Homo sapiens: one gene and its partners. The protein of the gene in region 2 purifies or fractionates together with the protein of the main gene of each other region. This does not show direct contact. Each region holds a gene or a part of one and is shown on either strand. Other genes may lie near its edges.

The links.
Region 1: the proteins of CCDC43 (region 2) and PNKP purify together in Homo sapiens (affinity purification with mass spectrometry; 4 studies listed by BioGRID and IntAct, with this or other methods). This does not show direct contact.
Region 3: the proteins of CCDC43 (region 2) and APTX purify together in Homo sapiens (co-immunoprecipitation; one large-scale study listed by IntAct). This does not show direct contact.

What each region holds. Positions count from the first base shown.
Region 1 is NC_000019.10:49,860,554-49,864,576, forward strand, and holds the end of PNKP (bifunctional polynucleotide phosphatase/kinase), read right to left. Parts: intron 3,851-4,023; coding exon 3,771-3,850; intron 3,684-3,770; coding exon 3,626-3,683; intron 3,519-3,625; coding exon 3,411-3,518; intron 3,208-3,410; coding exon 3,136-3,207; intron 2,186-3,135; coding exon 2,137-2,185; intron 2,056-2,136; coding exon 1,985-2,055; intron 1,911-1,984; coding exon 1,818-1,910; intron 1,729-1,817; coding exon 1,632-1,728; intron 1,553-1,631; coding exon 1,491-1,552; intron 1,329-1,490; coding exon 1,219-1,328; intron 1,143-1,218; coding exon 1,055-1,142; intron 958-1,054; coding exon 896-957; intron 813-895; coding exon 695-812; 3' UTR 651-694; downstream 1-650. UniProt on the Homo sapiens protein: Plays a key role in the repair of DNA damage, functioning as part of both the non-homologous end-joining (NHEJ) and base excision repair (BER) pathways.
Region 2 is NC_000017.11:44,683,155-44,686,804, forward strand, and holds part of CCDC43 (coiled-coil domain-containing protein 43), read right to left. Parts: intron 806-3,650; coding exon 718-805; intron 1-717.
Region 3 is NC_000009.12:32,974,758-32,977,663, forward strand, and holds part of APTX (aprataxin), read right to left. Parts: intron 2,446-2,906; exon of another isoform or gene 1,632-2,445; intron 1-1,631. UniProt on the Homo sapiens protein: DNA-binding protein involved in single-strand DNA break repair, double-strand DNA break repair and base excision repair.

The DNA of each region.
Region 1 (4,023 bases), on a different chromosome or scaffold from region 2:
ATGTGGGGTCAGTGCTTGGGAGCCTGTGGCCAGCAGCCCCCACTGCACCCCTGCCCCCAGGTGACACGCTTCTGAGCAGGGGCCCCTGGGGACTTCAACTGCCCAGCAACATGGAGGATGGTGTCCTGAGGCCTCCAAGGACGGTCCCCACCCCTCTACGTTTCCCCAATAAAGCCTTTTAAAAACCTGCCTGCCTTCTCTGCTCACTGCCCGATGCCTTGCAGCCCCCTAGCTCTAAGGTGGCCCAGCAGGCTGGACAGCCCGGGAACTCACTGGGTCTGGCTCTCGGCTGTCCACACCCTCTTCCCCCCCGAATCTCCAGACCCGCAGGCCTTGGGTTCAAGTTCAGTGTCACAGAACCTGAGCTGGATTTTGTCCTCAGGGGTCACACCTGGCCTTGAGCCAGCCCCTCGGTTGAGGCTCGTGGGCTCACCAGCTGGCTCTCGGGGGGCCACACAGCGCCCTCCCTGTGTGTTCCCCGGCTAATGTCTAAAGTGCTCATGCCAGGTCCCAGCTGGACTCCCCTCGGTAGGGCCCCACCTTTTGTTACCTGAAAATGTCCTTAAAGCCTCCTCCATGTAAGAAACTGGCAGGCCTGGAGCCCCTCCCCCGTGGGGACCACCCTCCTTCCAGCAAAATGCCGGCCAAGCTCAAGGAGAAACAGCGTTTATTGTGGAGGGGAGCTGGGCGGGGCTCAGCCCTCGGAGAACTGGCAGTACAGCCGCCCCAGCCTCGGCTCCACCCATAGCCGGAACGGGATCTCCAGGATGGCAGAGAAGCCTTCAGCCAGCGTTGGGGCCTCGAACTGCTTCCTGGCAGTGGTGGGAACAGTGAGGGACAGCCTGGATCATGTGGCCCAGCCAGTGCCCCTGCCCCCTGCTATCCCCAACAGTACCTGTAGCCATACATGACCATGTCTGACACGGGGATATGAGAGGAGTCCGTCATCTCTCGAAACTGTGGGGAACATCAGAGGGGCGGCAGGCCCAGGGGTCAGGGGAGGAGGGGGGTCAGGGGGTGCAGCCCGGGGGGTGTCCGGGCTGAGCGGGCTCACCCGGTTGTTGTGGCGCGCCTGCTCCAGAGTGGCGGTGAAGAGGAAGCAGCGGCAGGGGACGCCCGCGGCTCGGGCACACTGGACGTACCTGTGGGGGAAGGAGCTGGATGTGCAGGCCCCGCCCACCCCGCCGCAGGCCACCTACGGCCCCGCGGTCACGCTACCTGGCGCGGCTCGCGGCGTCTGGGTTTGTGTTGTCGATGGCGACCCGTTTCCCTTGCTTCAGGGCTGTCTCACACGTGGTCACACAGCGCTGCCAGGAGCCTAGCGTGTCCTGGGGACACGAGAGGTCACAAACAGATCGGCAGACCCAGGGGGAGAGAAGACCCCGAGCGGGGACGGGGAGGCAATGATGGAGGAAAGCCGCCCCAAACCAGTTGAGAGGTGGAGATGGGAACTTTATAATAGATTTGGGGCGGCAAAAGCCTGGTCATACCCTGTTCACGTGGACATATCCGGCCGACACGAGGTGCTTCTTGAGAAAGGTGGACTTCCCGGCTGTGTGGGGGGCAGTGTCGGTGGGTGGCCTAGGACCCAGGCGGGGCTCAGGGCACGCGCACAGGAACAGGACACTTACCCCCAGGGAATCCCACTGCGACAACCACCTCCGGGCTGGCGCTCAGGAGGGCCCTGGACTCGGGGAGGCAGAGAGGCCCTGAGCGGGAGACAGTCCTCTGCGAGGGGCGGGGGACACGCGTGAGATGCCGTCCCCATCCCCGGGAGCCCTCCCATCCCCACCCCCACCCCCGCCCCAGGGCCTCACCGGATCAAAGGCTGGGAGCTCGAAGCCGGCTGCTGGCCACTTGAGAAAGAACTCCTCAGGCGTGGCGAAGGGCAGGCCAAGGTTGAGGGCAAACTAGGGGTTGAGGACGAACATCAGACACAGGCCAGGGTCGGGCTCGGGCGCGGGGCAGGGGGCAGGGGCCTCACCAGGCGATCGGCGCAGGAGAAGTCTTTCTTCTTCCGCCCCGGGGCCCAGTTGGCCGGGCGTCCGGCTGCGTCTGGAACACACGGGACACCCCGTTCCCACCAGCTCGGAGGGAGGCGTCCCAGCCCACCCTCAGCAGCCTCCAGGCCCTTACCTCCCACAAAGATGCTGTCCCCGATGGATATGGGCGTGCCGTCGTTGGCCTACGGGAGACGGTAGTGAGGAGGCCCTTCCCACAAATGTCCCCCCGCAGCGGTAGCGGGTCCCTGGGGCTGCTTCGCCTGGTCTGTGCCCCACATCAGGAATCATCCCCCGACCTTTCATGTCCTCACTCTCCAGCCACTTTGCACCGTGCTCCTGGCCCCCTCCCCCCTCCGTGGTCTCTCCACACAGCCCCCTCCCTCCAGGTCTCCCGACTTCACCTCCTCCCGTTCCCCACGCGGCCACCGGAGGGCACCCACCCTGCTACAGCTCCAGCCTCCGGCGTGCCGGCGCCTCCCAGGTTCCCCCTCCCTCAGGGCAAAAGCGGGGCCCTCCCTGTGGCCCTGCCCTCTCCCCTCCCTCGCTTAGAGCCAGCCGCATGGGCCTCGCTGTCCCTAACTAGCCCAGGCTAGGGACTGCCTCAGGGCCTTTGCACTTGCTGTCACTCCCACAAGGGGGGGGACCGCTTTCCCCAGGTGTCCACCTGGCTCCCTCCTTTCCCTGCCTTAGGCCTTTTCCTCTGATGTCACCTCCTCAGAGGCCATCCCTGCCCACCACGGGTGATGCCTGCTTTCTCCAGCTCCCTCCCTCCTGCTGTTTTACACGCCAGTCTGCCCATCCGCCTAGAGTCACCGCCCTCGCCGTGAGGGCCCTGCTGGAGCAGGCCGTCCCGCTCACTGATACCTTCAGCTCAAGAATGCGCTAAACTTCAGAACAAATGCACACACAAACGAATGAACGAAGGAATGAACAGCTTCCCTACTACTCTGATGTAGAAAGTCTGAAAGCACTGGTCTCGTAAACCAACATCTAAGATGTCACAGCAAAAAACAGAAGGAGGGAGCGAGAGAGGACAGAGGAGTAAGGAGGCCCCAACCGGAGGCCGGGGAGCCCAGGAGTGAGGGGCTGGAGTGAGGAAAAGGAGGGGGGCCGGGCAGGCTGCAAGACTCACCTGCTCCTGCAGATGGTCCCACATGCCCGTCACCGGCTTCCGGTACAAGCCTGCGTGCGTGGCCACCAGCACCTGTGGATGGGAGGGGGCCACCAGCTTTAGCTCCCCCTCAAGCACCTACTGGATGCCACCCCAGCCCAGAATTTGTAGCTGATGATGGGTTCCTATCAGCATCACACTGCCTGAGGCCTCCGCCCCGCTTACCCTGGAGTCTAAAGCCCTCGCTCTGGATCTCTGTGCCCCCACATAGCTCCCAGCCTCCCTTCCAGCCATACCTGGAAGGGGACCCCCAGCTTCTCCACCACAGCCTCCACCTTGGCCTTGAACTCCTCGGCTGGCAGCTTCCCGCGCCCGATGCTCATCTGGTTGGTGAAGATCACCAGCTGGGGAGCAAAGGGTGTCACCAGACGCTCTGCTCACCAGGGCCTTGGTCTGACTGCGGTCGGACCGCCACGTGCACGTGCCCATGCAGACAGGCGGCTGCACATACCTTGTAGCCCTCGGCTTCCAGCTCTCGGAGCTTACGGGGAATCTCTGGGTACAAGATCCTACGGCAGGTATGAAGCGGCAGGGGTGACCCGGGGCCAGAGGTGGACTCCAGGCCTCACTCACTCCCTTGTTTTGCCTCTTATCACCTCCAGTCACTGGGGCCAGTGGGAAAGACCTTCCCAGAGCGTGTGGTGATGAGCGTCCCGTCCAGATCAAAGCCAGCCACCTGGTGTCACCAAGGAAAGACAAACAGCAGCACTGTGATACCTCTGACCCTCCTCACTCACAGGCTGACTCACACCAACCCTGCCAGGCAGGGTGTTATCACTGCCATCTCACAGATGGGGAAACCGAGTCACAGAGCACCTCCATCTCAAGCATCCGTGATGCCTCTGAGTG
Region 2 (3,650 bases):
CGCCCATTTCTCTTCCATTTTAAAGGGTAAAGTGTTTAGCTGAATAAAGCCAAATACCAACCATAATTTGTGTTATGAAATGACAACATGAGGCAGGGTGCTGTAGCTCATGCCTGTAATCCCAGCACTTTGGGAGGCTGAGGTGGGCAGATCACATGAGGTCAGGAGTTCGAGACCAGCCTGGTCAACATGGTGAAATCCCCATCTCTACTAAAAACACAAAAATTAGCCAGGCATGGTGACATGAGCCTGTAGTCCCAGCTATTCACGAGGCTGAGGCACAAGAATCACTTGAATCTGGGAGGCAGCAGTTACAGTGAGCTGAGATTACGCCACTGCACTCCAGCCTGGGTGACACAGCAAGACTCTGTCTCAAAAAAAAAAGACAACATGAAAAAAGTAGGAAGTGGTAAAAATATAGTTGACTCCATACCTGCAATGCAAATCTACAAGAAGCAGTGGAAAGATGATGAAAAAGAAAAAGTAAAAAACCACAATGAAGAAAACTGTGGTCAGTCGAAATGGAAAAATGCAAAAAAAGAAAAGGAAGCCAATGTTCAGTAAAGGTAACACAGGCTGTTGGGTGTTTGCCAGTGTACACTATCTTCGGGAAAATGAGCATCCAAGGGGAAAATGAAAAGATCTCTTCCTAACAGCTATACAGTCAAGGCTGCTGGAAAAGGCTCAGGAAGTTAAACACAGAAACTCTGACTCTACCTTCTTTTTTCACTTTGGTGACAACATTCTGAGTTTCTGACCATCGTTCCACAATCTCCTTGCAGATATTAAGGAGGGAATCTTCTTCCTAGTTGGAAAAGCAGACCAATTAATTTCCTGAGGGAGCCCTCAAAAACAATAGTAACCTCAAAAAAGCCTATGAAGAAAGCACAGCTCTCCATGCTGTGAAATTATGGAAGGGTCTGGGAGCCACAATAGAGTATGTTTCTTTTCTGAGGCTCTGGACACAGAATTGATCCTGCTTGTGTGTCCCAGAACCCACACCTCCTACATCAAGAACAGCCACTCCATCCTGATAAGCTCCAAGGGAAGATTCATACCAACTCAGGGCAGCCTTCCTCATTCTCTCTTAAAATATTTATTTTATTTTTAATTGACAAATAATAACTGTATATATTATATATATGTAGGGTACCCTGTGATGTCTCAATATATGTTCACATTGTAGAATAATTAAATCAAGCTAATTAACAAATCTATCACCTCACATATTTCTCATTTTTTTGGTGATGAAAACATTTAAGGCTGGGTGCAGTGGCTTACGCCTGTAATCCCAGCACTTTGGGAGGCTGAGGAGGGCGGATCACTTGAAGCTGGGAGTTCAAGACCAGCCTGGCCAACGTGCTGAAACCCCATCTCTACTAAAAATACAAAAATTAGCCGGGTGTGGTGGCACATGCCTGTAATCACAGTACTCGGGAGGCTGAGGCACAAGAATAACTTGAACCCAGGAGGCAGAGGTTGTGGTGAGCCGAGATCACGCCACTGCACTCCAGCCTGGGAGAGGGGAGAGAAATTGTCTCAAAAAAAAAAAAGAAAGAAAGAAAGAAAACATTTAAAATGTACTCTTTTAGTAATTTTGAAGTATACAATGCATTATTATTTATTTATTATTATTACTTTTTAGAGACAGGGTCTCACTCTGTTACCCAGGCTGGAGTGTAGTGGTGCAATCACAGCTCACTGTAACCTCAAACTCCTGGGCTCAAGCAATCCTCCTGCCTCAGCCTCTCAAGTAGCTAGGACTGCAAGCATGTACTACCACACCTGGCTAATTGAGTTTGTTGTTTTTTTTAAAAGATGGGGTCTCACTATCTTACCCAGGCTGGTCTCCAGCTCCTGACCTCAAGCAATCCTCCCATCTTGGCCCCCTAAAGTGTTGGGATTACAGGCCTGGGCCACCACATCCAGCCGATTATTACTTATTATAGTCACCATTCTATGCAACAGATCACTAAAGTATATTCCTTCTGTCTAACTGCAATTTTATACCCTTTGATCAACAATCTTCCCTTTTCCCATCCACCTCCCCCAATTCTTTTGGAGCAAAAACCTGTTCCCTAAGTCAAAACTCCTCTGTGAAATATTCCTTGGCTGACGTATACAATTCAGAACCTTCCCTAAGGTTATCAACTTTCATGCTAGATCATATCCATTAGCTTGCTGACACATAATAAAGAGGAGATACATGACAAAATGGTCTCTTGTCCAACCATCCCGCTGTCCATTTTAGAGAAGCATACATATTCTGCATACCAACCAATCTCCCTCCTCAGCATGATATAACAAAAATCTTGTCTTTAGTGTTAGAGATACTTAAGTTCAAATCCCAGATCTGTGAGGAAGTTTCTTAACTTTCTGATCTTCACATCCTCCCAGGATTTTACTGAGGATAAATGAAAATGTATATAAATGCCTACCCTACTTGTCAAAGAACAAGCATCTAATAAACACGAGCACTTCCCTCCATCTTCATTACGGCTGCATTCCCCACCTTCACGTTCTACCTCTCAGGGCAAGCTGTCAGCATTCACATTTATTAAGCATTTACCATGTGCCAGGCACTGCTCTAAAAGCCTTACATGAGAACTCTCAATTATTAAAATAATGCCATTAAGTACTATTTTACTCTCAATTTATAGAAGAGGAAACCAAAGCACAGAGGTTAATTACTTTGCCCAAGGTCTTACAAGTAATAATGGATTAAACACAATTTGAACCCCAGCAGTTTGGCTTAGAGCCCATGTTCTTTTTTTTTTGAGACGGAGTCTCGCTCTGTTGCCCAGGCTGGAGTGCAGTGGCGCGATCTCGGCTCAATGCAAGCTCTGCCTCCTGGGTTCACGCCATTATCCTGCCTCAGCCTCCCAAGCAGCTGGGACTACAGGCGCCCGCCACCACGCCCAGCTAATTTTTTGTATTTTTAGTAGAGACGGGGTTTCACCATGTTAGCCAGGATGGTTTCGATCTCCTGACCTCGTGATCCGCCTGCCTTGGCCTCCCAAAGTGCTGGGATTACAGGCGTTAGCCACCGCGCCCAGCCGAGCCCATGTTCTTAACCATCTCCCAAAGAAAAGTGGAGAGTCAGAACACAGACTTATTATGTATATCCTTATTTTGTACCCAGCAAAGGATTTCTTCCTCTACCTTGCATCCTTTTAGCTACATGCTAGACACACAGAACTTCCTTGGTCCAGAGTTTCAATAGTTCATGGGTTTCCCCCAACCCCCACCAGCAAGAAAAGCAAAGAAACAGAAAAAGAAAAAAGGATGAGAAAGTGGTACAGCTCTTTTAAAATCCCCCACCAAAAGAAAAAGAATGGCAGGAAAAGGAGCAGCAGAGAGGCAAAAGAGAACGGGAACTCTTAAGAGGACAAAGTGGTTTATTTCCTCAGTCTCCTCATCCAAATCAATGTAGTTCAATCATCCATTCCTTCATTTATTTATACAGAAGGTGCCTGCTATGTTCAAGGCACTAAGAGGAAAGTTTATCCTACTTACAATGCTCCTTTTTCCCTGGCACTTATCACTTTGTAACATACTATATAATTTACTAGTGATGCTTTTCCATGCTAGAATGTAACCGCATGAGGGCAGGAATTTCTATCTGTTTTATTCTTTGAAGTGCCCCAAGC
Region 3 (2,906 bases), on a different chromosome or scaffold from region 2:
ATGTACTATGGCCAAACACTGTTCCAGGCACTGAGACTTTAGCAAGAAACAAAATGGGAAAAGCCTCTGCCCTTATAGAAATTGTACGCTAATGAGGAAAGACAAATAATAAATAAGCAAACAAATAAACAAACAAAAAAAAACTTAAAGAATTAACATTGCCAAGAAAAAATAAACAAGGAAAATGGGATAGAGTGCCCAGGGGTAGAAGCTGCCCTCTTTAGTTAACAGTGTTCAGGGAAAGCATCTCCCGGGAAGTGATTTGAACGGAGACAGCACCCAAGCAAGCTAGGTCTGTGGGAAGAGTGTCTCAGAAAGTGAGGAGGCCAAGAGCAGGGGCCCTGAGATGAGGAAAAGCTCAGTGCAACCAAGAAAGAGAAAGAAGGTAATATGGCCCAAATGTATGGCCTGAATTGTTGGAGCCAAGCAGCAGAAACGAGGCAGGAGCCAGGTCATAAAGCCTCTTAAAGGTGACAAAGGGTTTGCATTCTATTCTGAATCTACTGGGAAGCCATTGAAGGATTTTCAGCCGAAGAGTGCTACTATCTGATTTATACTCTTTTTTTTTGTTAACAATAAAAATTGAATTATAAAATGGACCACAATTTAAAAGTGGGCCTATTTTAATTTTATTATTCTTAAATTCATTCTTTTGAAAATGCAACCAGGTGCGGCGGCTCACGCCTGTAATCCCAGCACTTTGGGAGGCCGAGGCAGGTGGATCACTTGAGGTCAGGAGTTCAAGAACAGCCTGCCCAACATGGTGAAACTAACTACTAAAAATACAAAAAACTAACTGGGCGTGGTGGCAGGTGCCTGTAATCCCAGCTACTTGGGAGGCTGAGGCAGGAGAATCACTTGAACCTAGGAGGTGGAGGTTGCAGTGAGCTGAGATCATGCTACTGCACTCCAACCTGGGTGACAAAGTTAGACTCCATCACTAAAAAAAGAAGAAAAAGAAAAAGAAAATGCACTTTATTTTTGAAATGATAAAAGATTTAACTATGAGCTGACAAAGTAGAGGTCGGCTGACATTAGTGGGTCAACTCTTCATGTAGATATTTAAATGCTGTTTTTTCTGTATTACATCAAAATGATTTGCAATAGGAAATTGGAAAAGGGGAGCAAAGCAGAGTGCAAAGCATATACTGAGGTCTTTCCATGGGTATCTGATAGAATGCAGATTCAGCACAATAAAATGTAGACTGCAGCAGTGGCCTGTAAGTGTACTCCAAGCGTACCGTAAGAACCTATGTAAAAACCATTTTTTTCTTATTCCTAACAGAAAAACAAATTTTGTTTTGTTTAAACAATAAAATGTAATGGAAAGATCTGTACTGTAAAACTACTTGCTATAAACTATCACAAGGACAGAAAACCAAACACTGCATGTTCTCACTCATAGGTGGGAACTAAACAATGAGATCACTTGGACACAGGGCAGGGAACATCACATACCGGGGCCTGTCAGGGGGGTGGGGGGCTCGGGGAGGGACAACATTAAGAGAAATACCTAATGTAAATGATGAGTTGATGGGCGCAGCAAACCAACATGGCACATGTATACCTATGTATCAAACCTGCCTGTTGTGCACATGGACCCTAGAACTTGAGTATAATAAAAAAAAATAAAAACTACTTGCTGTAGCCCATGTGTTCAGTTTGTTCAACAACCTCACTCACACATGATGAATTACATGAATAGAAAGTCACCAAATAAGACTCAAGACAAAAAAATTATCTATCAACCTCCATATGAAAAGACCACAGCTTTAATGATTTATACAATCCTTAAGCTTAATATCTGGTCAGTATAGGTTTCCAAATCAAAATCAAGTCATAAGCTGTTACAATAACTGCATTATACTAACATTTTCTTTCCAGTATTTCTTCCTATGAGGGAAAAAAATCATCAGAAGCTTTCACTCTTGAAAAGCGTCCTAAACTAAAACAGTGTTCTTCTCCAAAACGAAAATACTCTACAAACAGTAAATAAAAGCTAAGCTAATTTCAACAGTCATATTTCCAAAAGTAAAATCTATTAAGTACAATACACCTGCACAAGAAATTACAAGAAATGATTACAGTTACAGATGCAAAATAACATCTAATTATCCCAGGCTTGTGAACATAATAATTAAAATCAAATTCATATGCTAGTCCAAATATTATGTACAATTTAGATAAGCTGGTCAAGTATTATTTGAATATACACCATATTTGTTAAACCTAAAATTATATTACCTTTTCTTGTCCTTTAATATTTGTAGATACACGCCAATATGAAAAAAAATGTAATTTCCATTTATGTATTAACAGAGAATTTCTACTGCACATGTTTTAAACCGTTAAAAAATAAAAAAGTCAAGGTACATTTTCACTTAAGAGATAAAAATAAATTACCAGAATTTTAATTGATAAAAGTTTCATATCAATTTATAAAAATGACCCAAGCACGTGGCTCATACCTGTAATCCCAGCTACTCAGGAGGCTGATGCAGGTGGATCACTTGAGGTCAGGAGTTCAACATTGGCCTGAGCAACATAGTGAGACCCTCATCTCTAAAAAATTGTTTTAATCAGCCAGGCATGGTGGCACACCCATAGCCCCAGCTACTCGGGAGGCTGAGGCAAAAGGATACCTGGAGCCGAGGAGTTCAAGGCCGCAGTGAGCTATGATCTTGACACTGTACTCCAGACTGGGAGAGAGGGTGAGACTCCCATCTCTTAAAACAAAAACGAAAACAAAAAATGAATAAAAAAATTCATTTATAAAAATGGGGGGGAAAAAACCTGGGTGCAGTGGCTCACACCTGTAATCCCAGTACTTTGGGGGGCCAAGGCAGGTGGATCATTTGAGGCCAGGAGTTCAAGACCAGCCTGGCCAATATGACAAAACCCCATCT